Linked DNA regions of Homo sapiens: region 1 is linked to region 2. The links come from fine-mapping of genetic effects on plasma protein levels. Region 2 holds a variant in brackets. A gene starts in the other region. All regions are shown on their reverse strands.

Region 1 (8,292 bases), not on the chromosome of region 2:
GCAATCCCCTTACCTGGCTATCCATCTTTGGAAGGACAGTAGACCCTAGGATGATGGTGGCAGAGCCGAGAATCAGGAGGGGGTTTGGGACTCTGGGATCAACCAGTGAATAGGGCTGGATGGCTCACCCAAGCATGGGACATTGAGGACAGGGCTGGACGTGGGAGCTTAGCAGTGAGTCTGGAGCTTGGATGTCCCGAAACCCCAGCTTCCCGTCACCCCCCATCATACCTCCCACCCCCTCCGGGAAGGGAAATTACATTTCCCCATTTTAGCAAGGGGTGGCGAGAGGGAAGAATGAGTGAACACAAAGCTGAAAGTACAAGCAGGACGGAAAGTGAAACCGGGCACAGCCCCCAGTATAAGACCCCCCCTACCCAGGAGATGGCTGACCAAAGAGGCTGGGCCCCGCCATGGGCCAGACGGCAGGCGACCTTGGCTGGCGTGAGTTTGAAGCCAGGGGTGGGGGGCTTGGTTGAGTTTGGGCAGAGAATGGACGAGCTTGGCTGGTGCAGATGGGGGGTCGAGAGCTGAGAGCAGCAACTTGGCCAAGACTGAGGATTCGGCTGGCTGCTGCATGGGAAGGGAGGCTGGCATGACTGGGTGGGGGCCTGGGGCAGTGGGGTGGTGGTCTGACCCAGGGCTGGGCAGAGGATGAGAAGGAGGCCTTGGCTAGTGGGAATGGGGAGGGTTGGACCAGCAATTTGACAAGGACCAGGTCTAGGCAGATAAATGAAGAGTTTGGAGTGAATAAGCAGAAGCCAAACAGCTTGGCTAAGACTGAGAATGGGGCCGGCTGGAGGAAGAGCAGAACGAGGTGCTGGCACAAGTGGAGCACTGGGACCAAGATGTCAGCAGCCTCACTGGGTCAAAGGTCTTTAGTTTGATGTTGGAAAGAGGTCCAATCTGCGGCTGGTGGCTGCAGAACTCAGGGGCTAGAACCAGAGCAGTAGGCAGTGGAGAAGGTAACATGCCACGTAGGGCAGGTAGGGACCAAAGGCTGGAGGATGGAGACAGAGCCTTCAAAGGCCAGAGCCAATGACCCAGGATCAGCTGCAGAGGGTAAGGAGGGGGTCTGGGGTCTCCAGAGGTCAGGTTGGAGATGGCACAGCTCACTTACGGTTGGGCTTGATCCACCAGGGCCTGGGGGCACCCACCCTGTCCCCAACATTGAGCTAGGAAGAACCCCACTCTGCCTTAAGTCTCCAGGATGTCAGAGGGTCCGAGTGGCCCCAAAACCAGGGAGTCTGAATGCCAGAGATCTTACGTTAGGCATCGCCCACCACATCTGCAAGCCCACGAGGGAGGTAGATGTCCCTAGAAGCTCCCCTTCACCTTTATCAGGGGACATTTCGAAGAGCAGAGCCCAGGGGTTAGAGATTGAGAGAGGACAGGGAAGAGGCAGGGAGAGAAGGGAGAGCAGGATGGACTTCGGGCCAGTTTTGGTTTGTGTTTCGAGGAGAATTGTGTAACTCTTGTGCTTGCTAGATTTCCTCTCCCTGAGGGGGAAATTGATGAATGCTGCCCTCTTCCTAGAGCGCCCATCCGCTGCCCCTCTTTCCAGGAAAACACAGGTCAGGAAGCACACTCGGAATTCAGCCATTCTGGGCTGGGCGCAGTGGCTGATGTCTGTAATCCCAGCACTTTGGGAGGCCAAGGCAGGCGGATCACCTGAGGTCAGGAGTTGGAGACCAGCCTGGCCAACACGGCAAAACCCCTCTCTACTAAATATAATAAAAATTAGCCAGGCGTGGTGGCTACTCAGGAGGCTGAGGCAGGAGAATTGCTTTAACCTGGGAGGTGAAGGTTGCAGTGAGTCGAGATCGCGCCACTGCACTGCAGCCTGGGTGACAGAGTGAGAATCTGTCTTAAAAAAAAAAAAGCTCCCATACTGTGGATTCGCCCCAGGCAGGTTACCCTGCTAGGATCCACCTGCCGTGGTGGAAACTGGACAAACCTGTCCTTTTGACTCCCTGGAATAGAGCCTCTGGCATTGCCAGCCCATCCCTGGGGACCTCATGGCCAGTTCAAGCCATCAGAGCCGCTTGGCTGAGCCCAAAGAATCCTTGCCAGAACATGGTGTGCCCACTCCTGGGGCAGATGGCTGCCTCCCTCTGCATTCTCTGGGGAAAACCCATGGGCTCTGCATTTGGAAAAACCTGGAATCCAGTCCTGGCTTCCCACCTTCTGGCTATTTGACCTTGGGCAAGTCAACCTCACTGAGCCTCACCTGCAAATTGGGGAGAACAATAGCACTGAGGCTGCCACACGTGGTTGTGCAGGTTGCTCACTGAAAAAGGCATTTGGCCAAGGGAGTTTATGGGGGTCAAAATCCAGTCTCTGTCCCGGCACAGTGGCTCATGCCTGTGATCCCAGCAATTTGGGAGGCTGAGGCGGGAAGATCTCTTGAGGCCAGGAGTTCAAGACCAGCCTGGGCAACATAGTGAGACCCTGTCTCTACAAAAAAATAGAAACAGTTAGGCACAGTGGTGTGTCCCTGTGATCCCAGCTACTTGGGAGGCTGAGGCGAGAGGATCACTTGAGCCTAGGAGTTCAAGGCTACAGTGAGCTGTGATCACACCACTACACTCCAGGCTGGGTGATAGAACAGAACTCTGTTTCAAAAAAAAAAAAAAAGGATCAGGCTTCTGGTCTTTTTGCAAAAGTGGGCACACCATGCGGAGATGCCATATGGGGGCCGTGCTGGCTGCATCGTGGGGTTTTGTTTTGTTTTGTTTTGTTTTGTTTTTTTGAGACAGAGTCTGGCTCTGTCGCCCAGGCTGGAGCACAGTGGTGTTAGCTCACTGCAGCCTCTGCCTCCCAGGTTCAAGCGATTCTCCTGCCTCAACCTCCTGAGTAGCTGGGATTACAGGCATGCACCACCACGCCCAACTAATTTTTGTATTTTTAGTAGAGACAGGGTTTCGCCATGTTGGCCAGGCTGGTCTTGAACTCCTGGCCTCAGGTGATCCGCCCGCCTCGGTCTCCTAAATTGTTGGGATTACAGGTGTGAGTCACCGCACCCAGCCTCCATTGTGGTTTTGAGGAGGCAGAGGAATGATGCTGGTCAAAGTGCCTGCACCGTGCTCACAGCTAGCACAGGCTCAGAAAAGGCATGTTCCCTTCCTTCTCAAGCTCTCTCCCTGTCTTGCCACCCTCTTCCCATCTCTCCAGGGCTCAGCCTGTTGCTGCTTCCCTTGCTCCTGGTTCAAGCTGGTGTCTGGGGATTCCCAAGGCCCCCAGGGAGGCCCCAGCTGAGCCTGCAGGAGCTGCGGAGGGAGTTCACAGTCAGCCTGCATCTCGCCAGGAAGCTGCTCTCCGAGGTTCGGGGCCAGGCCCACCGCTTTGTAAGTCCCCCTAATGCAGCTGGCGCTGGAGATGGGCAGACCCCCAATCCCTTCTGGCCCCCACTAACAGACCTTGCCCCCCAGGCGGAATCTCACCTGCCAGGAGTGAACCTGTACCTCCTGCCCCTGGGAGAGCAGCTCCCTGATGTTTCCCTGACCTTCCAGGCCTGGCGCCGCCTCTCTGTGAGTGAGGGCTGGTGGAGTGGGGCGGGAAGCTTGTGATAGGCTGGGGCCAGGGTGCAAGATGAGGCTGGAGATTGAGCTGGAGATGCATTGGGGATAGAACCTGGATAAGGCTGAATATGTCATTGGACATAGAGATGAAAGACAGGCATGGTGACTTACACCTATAAACCCAGCACTTTGGGAGGCCCAGGTGGAAGGACTGCTTGAGGCCAGGAGTTCAAGACCAGTCTGGGCAACATAGTGAAACTTTGTCTCTACAAAAAAAAATTTAAGAGTTAGCCAGGCATGGTGGTGTACACCTTTGGTCCCAGCTACTCAGGAGGCTGACATGGGAGGATTGCTTGAGCTCAGGAGTTGGAGGCTGCAGTGAGTTATGATCCTGGACTCCAGGATGGAGAACAGAGGGAAACCCTGTCTCAGAAAAATAAATAAACTGCCAGGCGTGGTGGCTCATGCCTGTAATCCCAGCACGTTGGGAGGCTGAGGAGCACGGATCACCTGAGGTCAAGAGTTCAAGACCAGCCTGGCCAACATGGCGAAACCCCATCTCTACTAAAAAATACAAAAATTAGCTGAGCGCAGTGGCTCACGACTGTAATCCCAGCACTGTGGGAGGCTGATGTGGGTGGATCACCTGAGGTCAGGAGTTCGAGACCAGCCTGACCAACATGAAGAAACCCCACCTCTACTAAAAATACCAAATTAGCCGGGTATGGTGCTGTGCGCCTGTAATCCCAGCTACTCGGGAGGCTGAGGCAGGAGAATTACTTGAACCCAGGAGGTGGAGGTTGCAGTGAGATGAGATCGCGCCACTGCACTCCAGCCTGGGCAACAGAGCGAGACTCCATCTCAAAACAAACCAACAATAAAGATGAAGCTGGAATAAGGAAGTGGGGTTGGGAAGAGGTAAGAGTGGAGCTAGGCATGGAACGCGGCAGGCATGGGACTGGAATGAGGCTGGAGACAGATCACAGCAGCATGGAGGGTGGGTGGAGGTGGCACTGGGGGTGAGAATGCGGATAGTTAGAGATGAGAAGGTGATGATGAGGGTGAACGTTAAGCATGGGATGGAGAAGGGATGGGGATTGCTGGTGGGGAAGGGAATGGAATAGGGTTAGGAATGAGGTTGGAGATGGGATGGAAAGATGGAAAGAGTGAGTCTGGGCACATGGAGGAAGGATGGAGTTGGGGTTAGGAATGGGAATGAGGCTGAAGATGGGATGGAAACACATGGGCAGGAGGTATGATGGGATGGTGGAGGAGGGAAGGGAACAGGGCTGTGGATGGAGAGTGCTTCAGGGACTGAGAGGGGGTGGGTTAGAGAAGATCATTGGCATAGGAGTGAAAGGGAGGCTGGAAAAGGAGATGGGACAAATGTCCCAGACAGTGGAGATGGAAGGAATGGGGACACAGCTGGGCTGAGGTGGGGGAAGAGCTACAGGGATGGACTGGAGGCTGGAGCGTGGAATGGGAAGGAGACCCGGATAGGGAGGGGGTGGGTGTGATATGGCCATCCTTGGCCTGTGGACCTTTCCTGACCATCTCCCTCCCCTTCAGGACCCGGAGCGTCTCTGCTTCATCTCCACCACGCTTCAGCCCTTCCATGCCCTGCTGGGAGGGCTGGGGACCCAGGGCCGCTGGACCAACATGGAGAGGATGCAGCTGTGGGCCATGAGGCTGGACCTCCGCGATCTGCAGCGGCACCTCCGCTTCCAGGTAGAGCCCGGCCACCCTCCACCACCCCAGACCACGTGGGAAAGAAGACTCGCTGGCTCATTCAGTGATCCCATGCTCTGAGTGTGTGTGAGTGTGAGAGTGTGAGTGTGACTGAGTGTCCATGAGTGTGTGGGTTCATGAGTGTGAGAGTGACTGTGTGGGTCCGTAAGTGTGGGAGAGTGAGTGTGACTGTGTGGGTCCATGAGTGTGACAGTGTGACTGTGAGAGTGTGTGAGTGTGGGTCTGTGAGTGTGAGAGTGTGTGGGAGTGACTGTGAGTGCATGTGGGTCTGTATGAGTGTGAGCATGACTGTGTGTGAGGGTGTGGGTCCGTGAGTGTGAGAGTGAGTGTGTGGGTCTGTGTGAGTGTACCTGACTGTGAGAGTGTGTGGGTGTGACTGTGAGTGTGTGTGTGGGGGGGCTGTATGAGTGTGAGCATGACTGTGTGTATGTGCGTCCGTGTGTGAGTGTGACTGTGAGTGTGTGGGTCTGAGTGTGAAAGTGTGTGGCTGTGAGTGTGTGAGTGTGTGGGTGTGACTGTGAGTGTGTGTGGGTCTGTATGAGTGTGAGCGTGACCGTGTGTGTGTAGGTCCATGAGTGTGAGACTGTGAGTGTATGGGACTGTGAGTGTAAGAGTGTGGGAGTGTGTGGGTGGGTGTGTGAATGTGAGTGTTGTGAGTGTGAAAGTGAGGTGTGTGGGTGAGAGTTTGGGTATAGGTATGTCAGTGTGTGAGGATGAGTGTGAGTGTGAGAGTATGTGGGTACGTGAACGATTTTTTTTTTTTTCTGAGACTAAGTCTCACTCTGTCGCCCAGGCTGGAGTGCAGCGGTGCGATCTCAGCTCACTGTAACATCTGCCTCCCAGGTTCAAGCAATTCTCCTGCCTCAGCCTCCTGAGTAGCTAGGACTACAGGCGTGCACCATCATGCCTGGCTAATTTTTTTGTATTTTTAGTTTCACCATGTTGGCCAGGCTGGTCTCAGACTCCTGACCTCGCGCTCTGCCCGCCTCGGCTTCCCAAAGTGCTGGGATTACAGGCGTGAGCCACTGTGCCCAGCCATGAATGTGTTTTGTGTGAATGTGACTGTATGGGAATGAGTGTGGGTGCGTTGTGAGAATGAGTATGTGTGTGAGTGTGTGCGTGTGTGCAGGCGCACACACAGCCACACCAGGCCCTGGTGCTGCCCCTCAATCTTCACATTCTCCTGGGGCTCTATCTTCAACAGGAGGCCATTGGGCTGTGAGGTCACTCGGGGTGTGTCCTGAGTGCCCAGCACAGCGTCTGCCTCCTGTTTCCTTTCTCCCTCTGATTCTCTGATGTCACCCAGATCCTCCAGAACCTTTCAAAGGGAAATCAGAATTTTACACTTAATGAAATGAGAATAGAAAATGCAAGCAGCAGGGCTGGGCGTGGTGGCTCACGCCTGGAATCCCAGCACTTTAGGAGGCCAAAGCGGGTGGATCATTTGAGGTCAGGAGTTCGAGACCAGCCTGGCCAACATGGTAAAACCCCATCTCTACTAAAAATACAAAAATTAGTCGGGCGTGGTGGTGCGCGTCTGTAGTCCCAGCTACTCAGGAGGCTGAGGTAGGAGAATTGCTTGAACTGGGGAGACAGAGGTTGCAGTGAGCCGTGATCACCCCACTGCACTCCAGCCTGGGCGACAGAGCGGGGCTCCCAAGAAAGAGAGAGAGAGAGGAATGGCAAGCAGCAGGGAATCTGAGCTATGTCACCCTCTGCCTGTTGCTGACCCGACCCAAAAGCAACTTTCACAGCAGAGAGAAACTTCCTGAACCCCACGCCTCGGGGCAGTCCTTGGGGTGATCTAGCTCTGTGAGCATCCTCTTGCTCCTTGACTTCCATTTTCTCGAACTGAAAGATCAGGTGAGACGCGTTAGCAGGTGACATCATGGAAGATCAAGCAGGGAATGTCCGGGGAAATCATGACCTTGTGGTCACTGATGTCATTGGGAACCGCTGGGCATGAATAGGGAATGAGGATTCCTCTCAGGTTCTCGGCCTGGCCCCTCCCTGACCCATGGCCTCTCCTCACAGGTGCTGGCTGCAGGATTCAACCTCCCGGAGGAGGAGGAGGAGGAAGAGGAGGAGGAGGAGGAGGAGAGGAAGGGGCTGCTCCCAGGGGCACTGGGCAGCGCCTTACAGGGCCCGGCCCAGGTGTCCTGGCCCCAGCTCCTCTCCACCTACCGCCTGCTGCACTCCTTGGAGCTCGTCTTATCTCGGGCCGTGCGGGAGTTGCTGCTGCTGTCCAAGGCTGGGCACTCAGTCTGGCCCTTGGGGTTCCCAACATTGAGCCCCCAGCCCTGATCGGTGGCTTCTTAGCCCCCTGCCCCCCACCCTTTAGAACTTTAGGACTGGAGTCTTGGCATCAGGGCAGCCTTCGCATCATCAGCCTTGGACAAGGGAGGGCTCTTCCAGCCCCCTGCCCCAGGCTCTACCCAGTAACTGAAAGCCCCTCTGGTCCTCGCCAGCTATTTATTTCTTGGATATTTATTTATTGTTTAGGGAGATGATGGTTTATTTATTGTCTTGGGGCCCGATGGTCCTCCTCGGGCCAAGCCCCCATGCTGGGTGCCCAATAAAGCACTCTCATCCACCCCTGGCCTCCGCTTCTCTTCGGGTAAGGGCTGTCTGACACCCAGAGGGCAGGGCAGCCTGGAACGGGGTCAGCAACCTCTAGCCATCCTGAACCCCTCTCTGCTCCTACATTTTTGGGGTCTCTGGCCCACCTTCCCCTACTATGTCCTGCTCCGGCAGGCAGTTGCCATAGTAACCAGCAGCATCCTGAGGCCGAGCTACCGTGTTGGAAGCTCAAGGCAGCTCATCTCTGATTCTGAACAGTGCTCCTTAAGCCCTCCCAACCGCCTTCCTTTGGCCTGGATGCAGCTCCAGAGGTTTGTGTTATCCCCGCCCAGTTCTGAGGGTCTTGGTGCAGGGAGTTGGGCTGGGAAGTGGGAGTTAGAGAGGAAGGCCTGTAAGGAAAATGGTCGCTGTTCCCTCAGTCTTCCTTGCAGTCTTTATTGTT
Region 2 (8,329 bases):
AGGCTGTGGTGAGCCGAGATCGTGCCATTGCACAGTCCTGCCCACATCCTTTGCAGTAGGTGGGGTGGGAGGGAGTGGGGAAAATCCCTGCCAGTCCACTGAATCTTAGAGCCATCTCTGGGAAGCTGGTCACCTCTGCTCACCTGCTGTGTTCTTGTTCAGAGGGAGCAGATCTTGAACCTGAACCCGAGAGGACCCATCAGGTTCTCAGACTCTCAGAGATACCTGCCATGCCCAGAGGCAAGCTGTCTGCGTGGCTACACAGAGAAGAACTTCCTGGCCACCAGACTTTGAAGCCACTTGTAGGTGGCCAGAATAATGCCCCCCACCAAAGATGTCCATGTCCTAATCCTCAGAACCTATGAATATGTTATGTTACTGGGCAAGGAGGAATTAAGGTTGCAGATGGAACTAAGGTTGCTAATCAGTTGACCTTAAAATAACCTGGAGTATTGTGGGGGGGGGATGGGGCCCAGTGTAATCAATTACGAGGGTCCTTTAAATGTAGAAGAGGGAGGCCAAAGGTCACAGTCAGAGAGAGCTCTGAAGATGTTACACGGCTGGCTTTAAAGATGGAAGAGCCTTGGCTGGGCGCCGTGGCTCAGGCCTGTAATCCCAGCACTTTGGGAGGCTGAAGTAGGAGGATCACCTGAGGTCAGAAGTTCAAGACCAGCCTGACCAACATGGAGAAACCCTGTCTCTACTAAAAATACAAAATTAGCCAGGCGTGGTAACACATGCCTGTAATCCCAGCTACTCGGGAGGCTGAGGCAGGAGAATCACTTGAACCTGGGAGATGAAGGTTGCGGTGAGCTGAGATCACGCCATTGCACTCCAGCCTGGGCAACAAGAGCAAAACTCTGTCTCAAAAAAAAAAAAAAAAAAAAAAGATGGAAGAGCCAAGGAATGTGAATGATCTCTAGAAACTGGAGAGACACCTTGCTTTTAGGCCTGTGAGACCCGTTTTAGTCTTCTGACCTCCAAAACTATGAGACAATACACTCGTGCTGTTTTAAACCACTAAATTTGGGGTAATTTGTTACAGCAGTAATAGGAAACACAACACTAGCCCTGTTTATGAAACCTTCTGTTAGGGGAAGCCCCTTCCTGCCAACTTAACTATTGACCAGTGTGCAGGGAAATCAGTGGATAATGCCCATAGCTGTTTATGCTGACAGTCAAGAGTTGCCTTGATATAAATAAGCAAGCAGTGACAAGCCCCTGGAAGCATAAAGAAAATCATTATGTCACAGAAGTGTACACCAAAATGAAAGATCCAATAAATGTTTTCCACTGGAACACAACTGATGTAGGAAACTTAAAGGAACTTCAAAACAATTATGTTTTCAATAGGATCTAAAAATGAAATACAAGCAGGGTGCCATGAAAAGAGGAGAAATCTGAGAATAATACTGAATTCTTAGAAAAAAATGTAATCTGCCGCATTTTATTGGTTAGAAAAGGGAAAATATGAGAACGGCGATTCATCTGTGAGATTGTAGCTTCCCGGCATCCATTCATTCACTTCCAGGAACAGCCAACAATTTGGGCTCCACCTTCTCAGTCTACAGGGACCCAGTTGGCACTATTTCCCTTCTCCAATGCCACACAAAACATTAAATGGAATTTCAATTTTGAATGAGCCTTTTAACATATCTCTATTCTATCACTCTATGTATTTAATTATTTATGTGTGTGTCCATCTCCCCATGTGTACTATGAATTCCTAGAAGGCTAGACTACAATGTCTCACTTATCTCTTTCCCCAGTGTCTATCTGAGAGCTCTGAATAGAGAAGGACTTAAGTAAATGTTGGTTGACTAAATAGATGACCTAATGAGTGAGTGAATACATGAGCAAATAAATGATAAAATCTGAAATATGGACAGAGAAATTAAGGGATCCAGAAAGTTGATATTGCTCAAAAGAAAGATAAGTAAGCATCCTAAATTTTTTGAAGGGGGGAGGAGTGAGTTTCCATAGTGTAACCACTTTGAAAAACAGTTTAACAGTTTCTCAAAAAGTTAAACATAAGGCCGTAGTGGCTCACGTCTGTTAATCCCAGCACTTTGGGAGGTGGGTGGATCACTTGAGCCTAGAAGTTTGAGACCAGCGTAGGCAACATGGCAAAACCCCATCTTTACAAATAATTTAAAATTAGCCAGGTGTTGTGGCGCGTGCCTGTAAACACCAGCTACCAGGAGGCTGAGGTGGGAGGATCACCTGAGCCCAGGAGGTTGAGGCTGCAGTGAGCCATGATCATGCTGTTATACTCCAGCCTAGGCAACAGAGTGAGACCCTGTCTCAAAACAAAAACAAAAACAAACAACAAAAAACAGTTAAACATGGACTTAGCTTATGACTCGGCAGTTCTACTTACAGATATCTACCCAGAGGAAATGAAAACATACATCCACACAAAGACTTGTACGTGGATGTTCAAAGCAGCATTATTAACAATAGCCAAAAGGTGAAAACAACCCAAATGTCCATGAATCTCCCCCTACCACCCTTCGCCAAAATTCGCATTCACCTGAAATCTGTGACTATGATCTTATTTGGAAATACATAGTCATCCTTCAGTATCCGTAGGTGATTGATTCCAGGGCCCCCCACCAATATCAAAATCCTTGGATGCTCAAGTCCCTTATATAAAATGGCATAGTATTTGCACATAACTTATGCACATCCTCCTGTATACTTTAAATCATCCCTAGGTTACTTATGTTACCCAGTACAATGTAAATGCTATGTAAACAGTTGTTATAATGTACTGTTTAAGGAATAATGACAAGAAAAAAGTATGTACATATTCAGTACAGATGCAACCATCATAGGCCTAACTACATTTTCAATCAGAGGTTGGTTGAATCCACACATGTGGAACCCATGGATATGGAGGGCCTACTGAGGGTCTTTACGGATACAATTGAGATGAGGTCACCTAGAATCAGGATGGACTCTAAATCCAGCATAACTGGTGTCCTTGTAAGAAGAAAGAAATTTGCGAATAGAGATGCAGACAGACTGGGGAGGAGGCCATATGAAGATGAAAGCAGAAATTAGAGTGATGGGTCTAAGAGCCAAAGAATGCCAAGGACTTCCTCTGGCCACCAGAACCTGGAAGAAACAAAGAAGGGGACCAGAGAGCGTGCCGCCCATCCAGTTGACTTGATTACAACTTCTAGCCTCCAGAGAATAAATTGGAGAATAAATTGCTGTTGTTATAAACCACCTAGTTTGTGGTGATTGTTATGGCAGCCCTAGGAAACTAACACAGTTTCCTAATACTAATAGTATTAAACTAATACTAATACTGGTGAATGGATAAACAAAATGTGATAAATCCACATAATGGAACTATTCAGCAATAGAAAGAAATGAAGTACTGATACATGCTACAACATACATGAACCTCACAAACATTATGCCCAGTGTGGGGGAAAAACCCACAAAAGAACAGATAATGTATGACCCACTTATGTGATCTGTCCAGAAGAGGCAAGTCTAAGGAGAGATAAAGTTATTACCTACGCTAGGATGAAAATGAGAAGTGACTGTAAATGGGAATGAGGTGTCTATTTGGTGTGACAGAAATGTTCTAAAATTAGATTGCAATGATGATTATACAACTCCGTAAACATACTAAAATTCATTGAATTGTACATTTAAAATGAGCAAATTTTATAGTATGTGAATTATATCTCAATAAAGCTGTTCATAAAACATTGGGGTTCCCATGATCCCGAAACACCCTACTCTTATTAGAACTTCTCTTGAGATATGTACCTCTTACACGTGATCTGCAGGGAACTTGAAGTCCACCACTGTGACTTTGGATAAGTCAAAGTAGAAAATGATTCATCTTCTTGTGACGGGGACTAAAGGAAAAAAAATGCTACATCATTTGATTAAGCTAATATCTAAGAACTATACAATGTGCTTCAAATATAGGATTCATGGCTGCATGTAGTAGCTCTTGCCTGTAATCTCAGCACTTTGTTTGGTTTGTTTTTTTTAGACAGAGCCTTGCTCTGTCACCCAGGCTGTAGTGCAATGGCATGTTCTTGGCCCATTGCAACCTCACTTCCTGAGTTTAAGTGATTCTCGTGCCTCAGCCTCCCAAGTAGCTGGGACTACAGGCACACGCCACCACACCCAGCTAATTTTTGTATTTTTTAGTAGAGATGGTGTTTCACCATTTTGGCCAGGCTGATCTTGAACTTCTGACCTCAAGTGATCCACCTGCCTCCGCCTCCCAAAGTGCTGAGATTACAGGTGTGAGCCACTGCACCTGGCCTCTCAGCACTTTGGAAGGGCGAGGTGGGTGGATCACTTGAGCCCAGGAGTTTGATACCAGCCTGGGCAACCAGCCTCATCTCTACCAAAAAAAGAAAAGAATAAAGAACAATTAGCGGGTGTGGTGGTGTGTGCTTGTAGTCCCAGCTACTCAGGAGACTGAGGTGGGAGGATTGCTTGAGCCCAGTAGGTAGAGGTTGCAGTAAGCCAAGATTGTACCACTGCACTTCAGCCTGGGCAACAGTGTGAGAACCTGTCTCCAAAAAAAAAAGTTAGAAAATATAGTATTCAATCTGAAACCTTCATTTTTCATCTTTTCATTTTCCTTTAGGGCCCAAACAAGCCTGGGTATCTAGTTGGCAGGAACAATGCAAATGGAGTGGACCTGAACCGCAACTTCCCTGATCTCAATACCTATATCTACTATAACGAGAAGTACGGAG[G/A]CCCCAACCACCACCTGCCCCTTCCAGACAACTGGAAAAGTCAGGTAGGAGATGAAATTTGCAAACAAAGCAGGTAAATCAGCATCTGGAATTTCTTGCAGAAAGACTGCTAAGCCATCTTTACATCAACTAAACAAGCAAGAATTAAGCATCAACTCAACTCAGTATTAACCCATCTAGAGCAATAATATATATTTCTTCCGTGTCTTTGTATTTATTTTCTCCTCAGCATAGAGCCCTCCATGGAGCACACACTAAGTGATTTTTTTTTTTTTTTAAGACAGAGTCTCGCTCTGTCGCCCAGGCTGGAGTGTAATGGTGCGATCTCAGCTCACTGCAGCCTTCGCCTCCCAGGTCCAAGAGATTCTCCTGCCTCAGCCTCCTGAGTAGCTGGGATTAAAGATGCACACCACCATGCCCAGCTAATTTTTGTATTTTTAGTAGAGACGGGGTTTCACCGTTTGACCAGGCTGGTCTCAAACTCCTGACTTCGTGATCTGCCTGCCTCAGCCTCCCAAAGTGCTGGGATTACAGGCGTGAGCCACCGTGCCTGGTTAAATGTTTGATATTAGTGGTGATTGTGGTGAAGGATATGAAAGCAGTATCATTTGGTTGCATGGTTCTTAACAATTTTCCAGAATTATTTCACAGCCAGTTTCAGTTGATCATGACATCATGTGAAATGCACCAAGCAGTGTTATCCATCTCTGTTTTATAGCTATTACACTTAGAGAGAAAATAATTTACATTCTCACAGGTAGTGATTGATGGAATCGGGATGAAGATGCAGGCCTTCTGATTCTTATTCCAACATTCTTTCTACTACACTAGACTGTGGACAGAAGCATTCTATAGAGACGTCTGTCTTACTCGTGATAAGCTGTGTGCTTACCAACAATTAGCTATAGAAAGAGGCTCAGGCTGGGTGTGGTGTCTCACACCTGTAATCCCAGCACTTTGGGAAGCTGAGACGGGAGGATTGCTTGAGGTCAGGAGTTTGAGACTAGCCTGGGCAACACAGTGAGGCCCCATCTCTACAAAATAAAAATACAAAATTTAGCTGGGTGTAGTGGCACATGTCATAGACTTAGCTATTTGGGAGGATCCCTTGAAGGAGTTTAAGAGTTCAAGGTTACAGTGAACTATTGTCCTGCCTGCTCCAGCCTGGGTGACAGAGCAAGAGACCCTGTCTCCAAAACAAACAAACAAAAAAAAAGTTCAAGGAATCTAACCCTTAGTTTTCGGGACTGGGCGCGGTGGCTCACGCCTGTAATCCCAGCACTTTGGGAGGCCGAGGCGGGCGGATCACGAGGTCAGGAGATCGAGACCATCCTGGCTAACATGGTGAAACCCCATCTCTACTAAAAATACAAAAAATTAGCCAGGCGTGGTGGCGGGCGCCTGCAGTCCCAGCTACTTGGGAGGCTGAGGCAGGAGAATGGCATGAGCCTGGGAGGCAGAGGTTGCAGTGAGCTGAGATAGTGCCACTGCACTCCAGCTTGGGTGACAGAGCGAGACTCCGTCTCAAAAAAAAAAAAAAAAAAGTTCAGGGAATCTAACCCTTAGTTTTTTCTTTTCCCTTTCTTTCTTTTTTTTTTTTTTTGAGACAGAGTCTTGCTCTTTTACCCTCCAGGCTGGAGTGCAGTGGCACAATCTTGGCTCACTGCAACCTCTTCCTCCTGGGTTCAAGCGATTCTCCTGCCTCAGTCTCCTGAGTAGCTGGGATTACAGGCACGTGCCACCACCCCTGGCCAATTTTTGTATTTTTAGTAGAGACAGGGTTTTACCATGTTGGTCAGGCTGGTCTCGAACTCCTGGCCTTGTGATCTGCCCACCTCAGCCTCCCAAAGTGCTGGGATTACAGGTGTGAGCCACCACACCTGGCCCCTTTTCCCCTTCTATATGACCTTTGACTACTTTATCATTACTATACCCTCCCTGATTTCCCTTACTCTTCCAATCAGAGGATCCCATTCCATATTCCTAGGCCTCACTCTCCAAGAGGCCTATAATGGAAGTCCTTGGTAATGTGAGTGGTTTCACCCTGCTGGTGGGCCTGCTCCTGAAAATAACTAGGCATTCTCTAAGCATCACTGCCACCCCTGGTGATCACGCTGTGTGGGATAGTTTGAAATGTTCTATTTGTGAATGTCTAAATTTAGAGACTGGGGAAAGAAAAGCAAAGCAGGTGTAAGCCTTTTAATTGGGAGTTTCCCAAATGGAGTATTCTGGGGTTTTTTTCTCCCTTGAAAATGAAGCAAAAGCCATGCTGACATGTTAGATTTCAAACAGCAACTATCCTCTTGGTTCAAGTAAATAGTAAATAAAAAATAACTTTGTAAGGCTGGGCGCAGTGGCTCACACCTGTAATCCCAGCACTTTGGGAGGCAGAAGCGGGCAGATCAGCTGAGGTCAGGAGTTCGAGACCAGCCTGGCTAACATGGTGAAACCCCATCCTACTAAAAATACAAAAATTAGCCAGCTGTGGTGGTGGGCGCCTATAATCCCAGCTACTTGGGAGGCTGAAGCAGGAGAATTGCTTGAACCCAGATGGCGGAGGTTGCAGATGGCATCACTGCACTCTAGTCTGGGCGACAGATCAAGACTCCATCTCACAAAAAAACCAAAACCAAAACCAAAAAGCAAAGAACTTCGTGTTAGTCAGGATATCCAACCAGAAGAATGTTCTGATGTAATAAACTTGTTTCTCTAAGTAAAATAAGGTAATTGAATCAATGATAACTAGGCTCCCACTCAATCCTCTGTCTAAATTTTAGGGGGAAAAGCAAAGAGGTTTCCCTCGCTCCTGATGGAATATCCTTGAGGAAGAGGAACAGTGAAAAGCTGGCCTTGTTCTGATAGAGGCTTAGGACACAAAGACAGAACTGCCCCAGAGGGTCTGAGCCCTGGTCACAGACCAAGACTGGTGCCCTCGCAATTATATTCATTCTGATTAAGACTCAACCCTATTTATCCAGTCCCCTTGGGATGGAAAAGATGGAGCCTGTAGAGCTGACCTTGGTCCAGAAGGAGCCATTAACACAGTAACACTACATAATCTCTAAACTTGTTCATCCTGAGAGGAGGAAAAATGCTGTAGACTGTAAATTATTTACTTACACTGCAAGTCCCAGTGGATTCAAGGCTTTCTTTGGAATATTGTCACTCACTAGCAATATAATATGCAATAGAAAGGTGGAATTTCACTGCTTAGCCAAGACTGGCCCATCTGACAGTATGTCTAACCCATGAAATTTGGATTTGACCACAGGAGTGTGTTCTACATGTCAATATTACAGCAGGGAGGAAGGAGGTTGAAAACCATCACTGTAAACTAGCATTTTTAAGATTGATTTATTGGAGTCCTAAATTTCTGCTAAGATGACTTAGAAGTCACTGGAGCAGTGGGTAAAATGGGAAACCCTTTTCTAGGGTCCAGAGAGAGGCCAAGTTGGGGCTCTGAGCTCTCCAATCATGATATCTCTTCATACAGAACTTCTCTTTTTTGGCTGGGAATGGTGGCTCACGCCTGTAATCCCAACACTTTGGGAGGTGGAGATGGGCACATTGCTTGAGGAGCTCAAGAC

Alleles and levels. Positions count from the first base shown, and alleles are read on the strand shown. Strength reflects both the effect of a copy and how common the allele is.
With allele G in place of A in region 2, the plasma level of the protein whose gene starts at base 391 in region 1 is higher (moderate association).

Evidence for each region. PIP is the posterior inclusion probability: the model's chance that the variant is causal. The UK Biobank Pharma Proteomics Project read protein levels with antibody pairs (Olink). The fine-mapping took linkage between variants from a reference panel, not from the people measured, so its PIPs are less certain.
Region 1: IL27 starts here. The variant in region 2 is fine-mapped to the plasma level of the IL27 protein (UK Biobank, PIP 0.98).

The regions. Positions count from the first base shown.
Region 1 is chr16:28,498,933-28,507,224 of GRCh38, reverse strand. IL27 (interleukin 27) reads left to right here and starts at 391. Exons shown (of 5, transcript NM_145659.3): 1 at 391-444; 2 at 3,175-3,347; 3 at 3,432-3,530; 4 at 5,091-5,249; 5 at 7,305-7,863. The coding sequence starts at 414. The coding sequence ends at 7,574. APOBR (apolipoprotein B receptor) reads right to left here. Exons shown (of 4, transcript NM_018690.4): 4 at 8,261-8,292. RefSeq lists enhancers at 6,961-7,461, 7,462-7,962.
Region 2 is chr10:100,066,171-100,074,499 of GRCh38, reverse strand. CPN1 (carboxypeptidase N subunit 1) reads left to right here. Exons shown (of 9, transcript NM_001308.3): 3 at 4,631-4,786. Among named protein-coding and RNA genes, the nearest start is that of CPN1, 12 kb to the left of the region's middle. The variant G/A (reference allele first, on the strand shown) is at 4,743.